3 separate regions of the Homo sapiens genome follow, and regions 1 and 3 are each linked to region 2. Evidence: fine-mapped expression QTL. A gene starts in region 2. Each other region holds a variant in brackets. All regions are shown on one strand. Distances are between the middles of the regions. Region 1 overlaps ABCC2 (ATP binding cassette subfamily C member 2). Region 2 holds the start of ABCC2 (ATP binding cassette subfamily C member 2). Region 3 overlaps COX15 (cytochrome c oxidase assembly factor COX15).

Evidence for each region. PIP is the estimated chance that this variant, and not a neighbour inherited with it, causes the effect. A credible set is the group of variants that fine-mapping cannot tell apart.
Region 1: its variant is the best candidate, but not a certain one, in a credible set for the expression of ABCC2 in whole blood (TOPMed, PIP 0.70).
Region 3: its variant is the best candidate, but not a certain one, in a credible set for the expression of ABCC2 in whole blood (TOPMed, PIP 0.53).

What each region holds. Positions count from the first base shown.
Region 1 is chr10:99,820,903-99,823,670 of GRCh38, forward strand. The region is part of intron 19 of ABCC2 (ATP binding cassette subfamily C member 2); the gene reads left to right. Among named protein-coding and RNA genes, the nearest start is that of ABCC2, 40 kb to the left of the region's middle. The variant G/A (reference allele first, on the strand shown) is at 1,567.
Region 2 is chr10:99,781,595-99,784,362 of GRCh38, forward strand. ABCC2 (ATP binding cassette subfamily C member 2) reads left to right here and starts at 1,046. Exons shown (of 32, transcript NM_000392.5): 1 at 1,046-1,283. The coding sequence starts at 1,251. RefSeq lists an enhancer at 2,244-2,768.
Region 3 is chr10:99,713,792-99,716,559 of GRCh38, forward strand. COX15 (cytochrome c oxidase assembly factor COX15) reads right to left here. Exons shown (of 9, transcript NM_078470.6): 8 at 2,557-2,670; 9 at 1-927. The coding sequence ends at 796. Among named protein-coding and RNA genes, the nearest start is that of COX15, 17 kb to the right of the region's middle. The variant G/A (reference allele first, on the strand shown) is at 1,601.

The sequences.
Region 1 (2,768 bases), 39 kb after region 2:
TAGAGAAAGAAATAAGGGGACCCGGGGAACCAGCGTTTAGCATATGGAGGATCCCGCCAGCCTCTGAGTTCCCTTAGTATTTATTGATCATTCGTGGGTGTTTCTCGAAGAGGGGGATGTGTCAGGGTCACAAGACAATTGTGGGGAGAGGGTCACAAGACAATTGTGGGGAGAGGGTCAGCAGACAAACACGTGAACAAAGTTCTTTGCATCATAGACAAGGTAAAGGATTAAGTGCTGTGCTTTTAGATATGCATACACATAAACATCTCAATGCTTTACAAAGCAGTATTGCTGCCTGCTTGTCCCACCTCCAGCCCTAAGGCGGTTTTTCCCTATCTCAGTAGATGGAACATACAATCGGGTTTTATACCGAGACATTCCATTGCCCAGGAACGGGCAGGAGATAGATGCCTTCCTCTTGTCTCAACTGCAAGAGGCATGCCTTCCTCTCATACTAATCCTCCTCAGCACAGACCCTTTACGGGTGTCGGGCTGGGGGACGGTCAGGTCTTTCCCTTCCCACGAGGCCATATTTCAGACTATCACATGGGGAGAAACCTTGGACAATACCTGGCTTTCCTAGGCAGAGGTCCCTGCGGCCTTCCGCAGTTTTTGTGTCCCTGGGTACTTGAGATTAGGGAGTGGTGATGACTCTTAACGAGCATGCTGCCTTCAAGCATCTGTTTAACAAAGCACATCTTGCACCACCCTTAATCCATTTAACCCTGAGTTTGACACAGCACATGTTTCAGAGAGCACGGGGTTGGGGGTAAGGTCACAGAATCTTAAGGCAGAAGAATTTTTCTTAGTACATAACAAAATGGAGTCTCCCATGTCTACTTCTTTCTACACAGACACAGTGACAATCTGATCTCTCTTGCTTTTCCCCACATTTCCCCCTTTTCTTTTCGACAAAACCGCCATCGTCATCATGGCCCGTTCTCGATGGTCGCTGTCTCTTCGGAGCTGTTGGGTACACCTGCAGACATGTGATAAGTGAATCTACTGATGGGACTGACAGTAGGTACTTCTACCAACCAATTTTGGACTGCAGGCATTAAACATCCTGGTGCTCTCCCTAGGCAAATAGGAGGATAACGATACCCAATGGAAATATTTATCATCATCCCTTCTTCCTCAGGTTTGGCAGGGCAGCGATCATCTGTGGGGCCAGGTACCCATACGCTATCATTAACATATACTTCTATAGGATTATCCATCCATGTGACTGCCCGAATTAAGGGCGGGAAAGGCACATAGGCCCAGTAGGTATAGTTAGCTGCAGCTGCTCCTGCAGGCATAGGGAGACTTACCACCGTTGATACAATCATCAAGGCTGCAAGCAGCATACTCTCTGGGGTTTGTGTCACCTTTGTGTTCTCTAGATATTTTGTAGCTAACTGCGTCAGCTTCTTTAGTTGTGCCCAAGTTGGCGGCTCTGCCTTCTTGGTGGATGGCAACTTCATCTGTTCTTCTGACGTCACCATTTTGTTCATCTTGTGAGTCAACGGTGCTCGACTGTGGTGTCTCCGTCTCCGCGGAGGTGCTTTTCTTTGCATCTCC[G/A]ATGGGTTCATTGTAGAACTTCAAATGTCTAGTGCGTATCCAAACAGGAAGCTGATTTTCTCCTGGTGAAACACAAGCAAAACCTCTCCCCCACGTTATCACCTTCCCTATTTCCCATGTCTTATTTTTATTATCTTTCCACCAAATTAGTTTTCCTTCATGTGGGCTGTTCTTTTTACCAGTAAGATGTTGTTCTGCAGAAGTAGTAGTCTGATTTCTATAAATGTTTAAAAAATTTAAAGTATAGAGTGCTAGATTAAGTTGCATCTGAGGAGTGGTACACTCCTTACTGTCTCCTGCTTCTTTTTGTTTAACTAATTGAGTTTTGAGTGTTCTATTAGTTCTTTCAACTATGGCCTGTCCTTGGGAATTATAAGGCATTCCTGTTGTATGTGAAATTTTCCACTGACTTAAGAATTTTTGGAAAGCTTTACTACAATATCCTGGTCCATTGTCAGTTTTGATTTTTTCCGGAACTCCCATTACAGCAAAACAAGACAATAAATGTTTTTTTAACATGGGAAGTACTTTCTCCTGTTTGGCAAGTTGCCCATATGAAATGTGAATAAGTATCAACTATTACATGAACATATGATAATTTTCCAAATGAAGGTACATGCGTGACATCCATTTGCCATAATGCATTAGGACACAGACCTCTGGGATTAACTCCTGCCTCTTGAGTGGGCAGGTGTAAGACTTGACACTGGGTGCAATGTTGTACGATATCTTTTGCCTGTTTCCATGTGACATCAAATTTGTTTTTTAATCCTGCTGCATTTACATGAGTCAAAGCATGAAGTTCTTGTGCTTTTATGAATGCAGATGATACCAGTAAGTCAGCTTGTTCATTTGCTTTAGTCAAAGGCCCTGGTAAATTACTGTGTGCTCGAATATGAGTAATATAAAATGGGAAATTTCTTTTTCTTACAGTTTATTGTAATAAATTGAATAGCTGGTTTAACTGATCATCCATGCTATATTTAATTAGAGCTGTCTCAACATCCCTTGTAGCCTGTACTACATATGCAGAATCTGATATAATATTGATAGGTTGGTCAAAATCTTGTAACACTGTAATGACTGCAACCAACTCTGCTCTTTGAGCCGATTGATGTGGAGTTTTGATTACTCGTTCCTTCGGCCCTGTGTAAGCTGCTTTTCCATTGCTGGAACCATCAGTAAATACTGTTAGAGCATTT
Region 2 (2,768 bases):
TCTTATAATCCGGTAGTTAGATCTAGAATTTGACCAGATTTAAGGCCAATTTTTTTTAGCTAGGATACTGCATGGGTGGTTATGTTTTAGCTAGGATACCGCATGGGTGGTTCATGATATCATGAAAAAAGCATGTTCTTAAAGCAATTTAAGTGACAGTACAAAAGGTTGGGTCAGGTGGGGCACGGTAGCTCATGCCTGCAATCCCAGCCCTTTGGGAGGCCAAGGCAGAAGGATTGTTGAAGCCTGGAGTTTGAGACCAGCCTGGGCAACATAGTGAGACCCCGTCCCTACAGAAAACATTTTTTTAATTAGCTGGGCTTGTTGGCATGTGCCTGTAGTCCCAGCTACTCAGGAAGCTGAGGCAGGAAGATCGCTTGAACCCATGAGGTCAAGGCTGCAATGAATCATGATGGCAACACTGCACTCTAGCTCAGGCAACAGACCAAGACCCTGTCTCAAAAAACAAAAAACAATAACAAAAAAAGAAAAGGTTGGGTCGATGACAGTTTCTAGCGACTGATGCCACCACTCTGTTTACAGAATCACCCCTCTCCTCTGGCCCTGATGTTTTATCATGATATCATATTTACAATGCCTGGCAAAGGCTTCATTCCCATTTGGCATACTACCTCTCAGGCAAATAGAACTTTTGAAAGCCTGTATTATGTATATAACATATAGGCTCACACTGGATAAGCTATTTTATAACCTGACTTCTTCAAAGAAAGTTTACATCATGTTTAAACCATGTTTTAGATTCTATATTTTTAATTAAAAATCTAAGGAAGAAGGATATTTCACATTTCTATAAACTCTAAGATCTTGCAGCAGAAGCGAAACTGCACATTTAGGGGTGCCTGCCCCTCTACTGATGCTGCCCTTTGTGGGTCATATGTCCTTAGGAAAATGAAAGACTGTGCACTCTTGATTTGTTGGCCAGCTCTGTTGACATCTTTCAGTGGTTCCTTTTATGTATGGCCACTCCTACAGAGGCCTCTTGTACTTTGGGAACTGGTGAGTCTCCCTGTCCCTAGGGCTTTTTAGTCACATGTCCATCCACTGTTTCAATGTAACATGCATCTAGGCAAGGTTAACGATTAAATGGTTGGGATGAAAGGTCATCCTTTACGGAGAACATCAGAATGGTAGATAATTCCTGTTCCACTTTCTTTGATGAAACAAGTAAAGAAGAAACAACACAATCATATTAATAGAAGAGTCTTCGTTCCAGACGCAGTCCAGGAATCATGCTGGAGAAGTTCTGCAACTCTACTTTTTGGGTGAGAAATTACATTTATCTTCATATTGACTCTTCTCAGACTCAGAACAAGTGGTAGTTAGTTAACTTAGGGTGGTCACCAACAAGAACCAGAAATGTTAGATGTGCAATTGGTCTAAAGCTCAGGCTTTTTAGAAAGCATAATTCATAATATCTCCAGAGGATATAAGATCTGGGAAATGTAATGCAAATTATTCTCTGTCATATGTTTTTTTATATCAGACTCTTGTACTAGCTAGTCGCAAAATTGCCTTCTCTAAAGAGAAACAGGTAAAAACCTTCCAATTTAATCCGTGTGAGGAAGGAGAATTGTTGTTGCATACTTTGCTAGTAGAAGGAAGAGAAGATCCGTGACTGAGTCTTGCTGAGACATGTTGATGTTGAAATGATAATGATAAGTTCTAGAACTGGCAACTAATGATATGGACTAGAAGTTGAGTCTAGGGATGCAACTTTGGGCATCATGAGCATTGAAATAATTTTTGAACAACTAGAGTTGGGTAATATTGTTTTTAAGGAAAAGAAGAGACACCACTTAGAGGGTGAACAAGAACAGTGTAACATTACGGAGTCATAGATAGCAAAAAATTTCAAGATAGGGGCCAATCAACAGTATCAAAGGTCTAGTGGAATAGAAAACAAAAAAGGACCTTAGATTTAGTGATTTTAGTAAGGGTTTGGTGAGAAAGTATCATCTGCAAACTCCTAGCCTCAGCATCAGAATCACCTGGGGCAATAAATGTAGTTTAAGTATCTTAAGTGATTCTTCTGAATTCTAACATTTGATAACCTTATATAGAGGTGAGAGGGGCAGGGATGAGATAGCAGAGCACCTGGGCAGCACCTCGTGTCTTAGAAAGGACCTGGGTCCCAAGACCCTCGAGGCCAGGAGTGTATACCACGGCAAGGTGGATCTTCATGGGCTATAGTATCTAGACAGGCCATCTCTTGAGAATTCTTTCTGAGAACTACCTGACAAACTTTCTTGGTCAGGGCATCGCAAGCAATTCTTTAAAGAGTCTGTATAAATAATCATATAAAACAATTTTTAACTATTTATAGGAAAAGAAAAATCCACACTCATGTGACTCAGATACAAGAATTGGTGCCCACCCCCCACCCCCCAACTTCCACTTCACAAGACACTTCCATTTATCGCAGAATGCAAAGACTGCACAAAACTTGCTGGTTGGAAGCCTTCTGTCCAACAATGCTGTTGTCACTGCTGTGCTGAAACTGGCCAGGTTTTTAATGTAAGCGCTTTGGGCCATCAGAGAGCAAATGTTACAGTATGACTAAGCATTCTCCCTGCATGGCGCCTGCATGTTTGAATATCTGCCAGTGAGTTCAGTTAGTGCTAGAAACTTGAATAATTTTTTATATCCCAGGGAACTATTCTGTCCTTTAAACTGGGGAACAGTCCTTCTTCATCCTATAATTTGGCAAATGCAGTGGTGAGGTTTACTCAGAATAGCTGGTACAAAAT
Region 3 (2,768 bases), 68 kb before region 2:
AAACCCCTTCTCTACTAAAAATACAAAATTAGCCAGGCATGGTGACTTGTGCCTGTAGTCCCAGCTACTCGGGAGGCTGAGGCATGAGAATCGCTTGAACCTGGGAAGTGGAGGTTGCAGAGTGAGCTGAGATCACGCCATTGTACTCCAGCCTGGGCAACAAGAGTGAAACTCTGTCTCAAAAAAAAAAAAAAAAATGGAACTATTTGGCGATTACCTCCTTTTCCAAGTACTTAAAAACCATTTTGCTACATATACACATTAAGCTTGTCAAAATCTGCAATTTCCCCATTTCTGAAAATCAGGATATTAGAAGACATTAGCTTTTTTTTTTTTGCTGAAGACCAGCTGGCTACTTTGGGTATGTCAATCCTATCCTTTCAATCTTCACCTAATGGAAGTGAAGTTAAGATCATAAAGAAATTCTATTTAGGCAGAATTAAGGACTCAGGAGAACATCCACGTAGAAATCATCCACGTAGAACCAAGAGCTTGCCAACACTGAAAAACCTGACACAAAGCCTGTTAAGCAGCAAATGGCAGACATTTCTTTCTCTACATTAAAACTGATTTTCAACATGAAAAGCAGATTTAAAAGGGAACATTTAGGGTAACCACACTTAATGCATTCTTGATCCAGTGACTATCTCAAAACAGGAAAAGATTTTTAAGTAAGTTGACCATTTGGAAACCACTTGGTATGTCAAGGTCATCTCGTAGAAAAGCCCAAGTTCTTATGATCTCTGAAGAGCTCTCAAAAGCAGTCACAGTCCCAGGAGGCTGGTCCTCTAAGAATCATTTTGGGACTCTTCGGAGTTCATTCATCAGCCAAAGAGCACCAGTGAGCAAAGCCAAGGAGCCTGACTGGTGAGTGGCGGCCAGAGGAGTTGGGACATACATCAGCAGCGTGCTGATGCCCAAGCCCACCTGTCACAAAGGAAAGAAGGCAATAGGAAAGGCAGTAACCCAAAGTTCACATTGAAAATGGCCAGGCGTGGATAACCACACACAAACCTCCACATCCTCCTATCAGAGCACTTAAAATACACACATTTTTAATTTCACAAGCAAATATGCTTACAATGAAAGAAATTCGAACAAAATTGATAAACCTAAAATTCCCCTTATTCTTCAATCCATCCCAGTTCCCCAGAGTAGTCACTGTTACCAGTTTCTGCATACTTGTACTTTAGTATGTTTATAGAGAAATAAATATATAGTTTTGTGCTTTTAAAAAACATATTGTTCTGTCACTTGCTTTTTTTCACTTAGCAATATACACTATGTATTGAGATCTTATTAAACTGCTGTGCAGTATCGCACAGTATGGATATACCATAGTTTTTTTTGTTTTGTTTTGTTTTGAGACAGAGTTTCACTCTGTCTGCCAGGCTGGAGTGCAATGGCATGATCTTGGCTCACTGCAACCTCCACTTCCAGGGCTCAAGCAATTCTCCTGCCTCAGCCTCCCAAGTAGCTGGGATTACAGGCGTGTGCCACCCCGCCTGGCTAATTTTTGTATTTTTTAGTAGAGACAGAGTTTCATCATGTTGGCCAGGCTGGTCTTGAACTCCTGACCTCAGGTAATCCGCCCACCTCG[G/A]CCTCCCAAAGTGCTGGGATTACAGGCGTGAGCCACTGTGCCCGGCCCATAGTTTTTTAACTATTTAGGTTGTTTCCAATTTTTCACTATCACAATTCTATGATGAATTTTCTCATACAAAAGGTCTTTGTTGCATTGGACTGTTTCTAGGACTGACACTAATAAGTTCATTTGCTGGGCCAAAGAATTACCCATTTAACTTTTAAAAGATATTGCCAGCCTGGGTGACAGAGTGAGACTCCATCTCTAAAAAAAAAAAAAAAAGATATTGCCAAATTGCCTTCTGGAAAAAACTGTACTGACTCATGCTCTCACCAGGAATATTTGAAAGTATCCATTTTCCTATGCCCATGGCAATACCTGATTATCTTTTTTTTCACTTTTTTCCAATTTGATAGGCACAAAATGGTACTTATTTTTTAAATTTGCTCCTCTCTGATTATAAGTGAAGCTGAACAGCTTTTCATGTTTACTGGCCATTAATCATTGTTTTTGTGGTAATTGTGTATTGATGTCCTTTACTTATTTTCCGGTTATTAATCTTTTAATTTATTATAAATATGGAAAATATTTTCTCCTAGTCTGTCACCTTTCCTTTTTTTTTTTTTTTTTTTTAAACAGACAGGGTCTCACTCTGTTGTCTAGGCTGGGGTGCAGCGGTGCGATCTTGACTCACTGCAGCCTCAACCTCCCTGGCTCAGGTGATCCTCCCATCTCAGCCTCCCAAGTAGTTTGGACTACAGGCACACACCAACATGCCCATCTAATTTTTGTATTTTTTTTGTAGAGATGGGGTTTTGCCATGTTGCCCAGGCTAGTCTTGAATTCCTGGCTCAAGTGATCTGCCCACCTAGGCCTCCCAAAGTGCTGGGATTACAGCCATGAGCCACTGTGCCCGGCCCCTTTTTTAACTTTGTATTGGGGATACTGTCAGAACAAAAAGAAGTGGTTTATACCTGTGTATACGCCAAAGCCAGCAGAGTCACTGCTGCCATCTTGGTCCTTCTAGGAAGGGGAATTCTCCGAGAGAGGAAGTAGAGCACTGTAATGGCAGTGACTGAAGTGATTCCCTGCAGGGAAGAAAGAGTCTATCACATTAGATAGAAGTGCCAGGTTTCTAACTCACCTTACATGTATCTCCTCTAGAACCACTCAGCAACCATGAAGT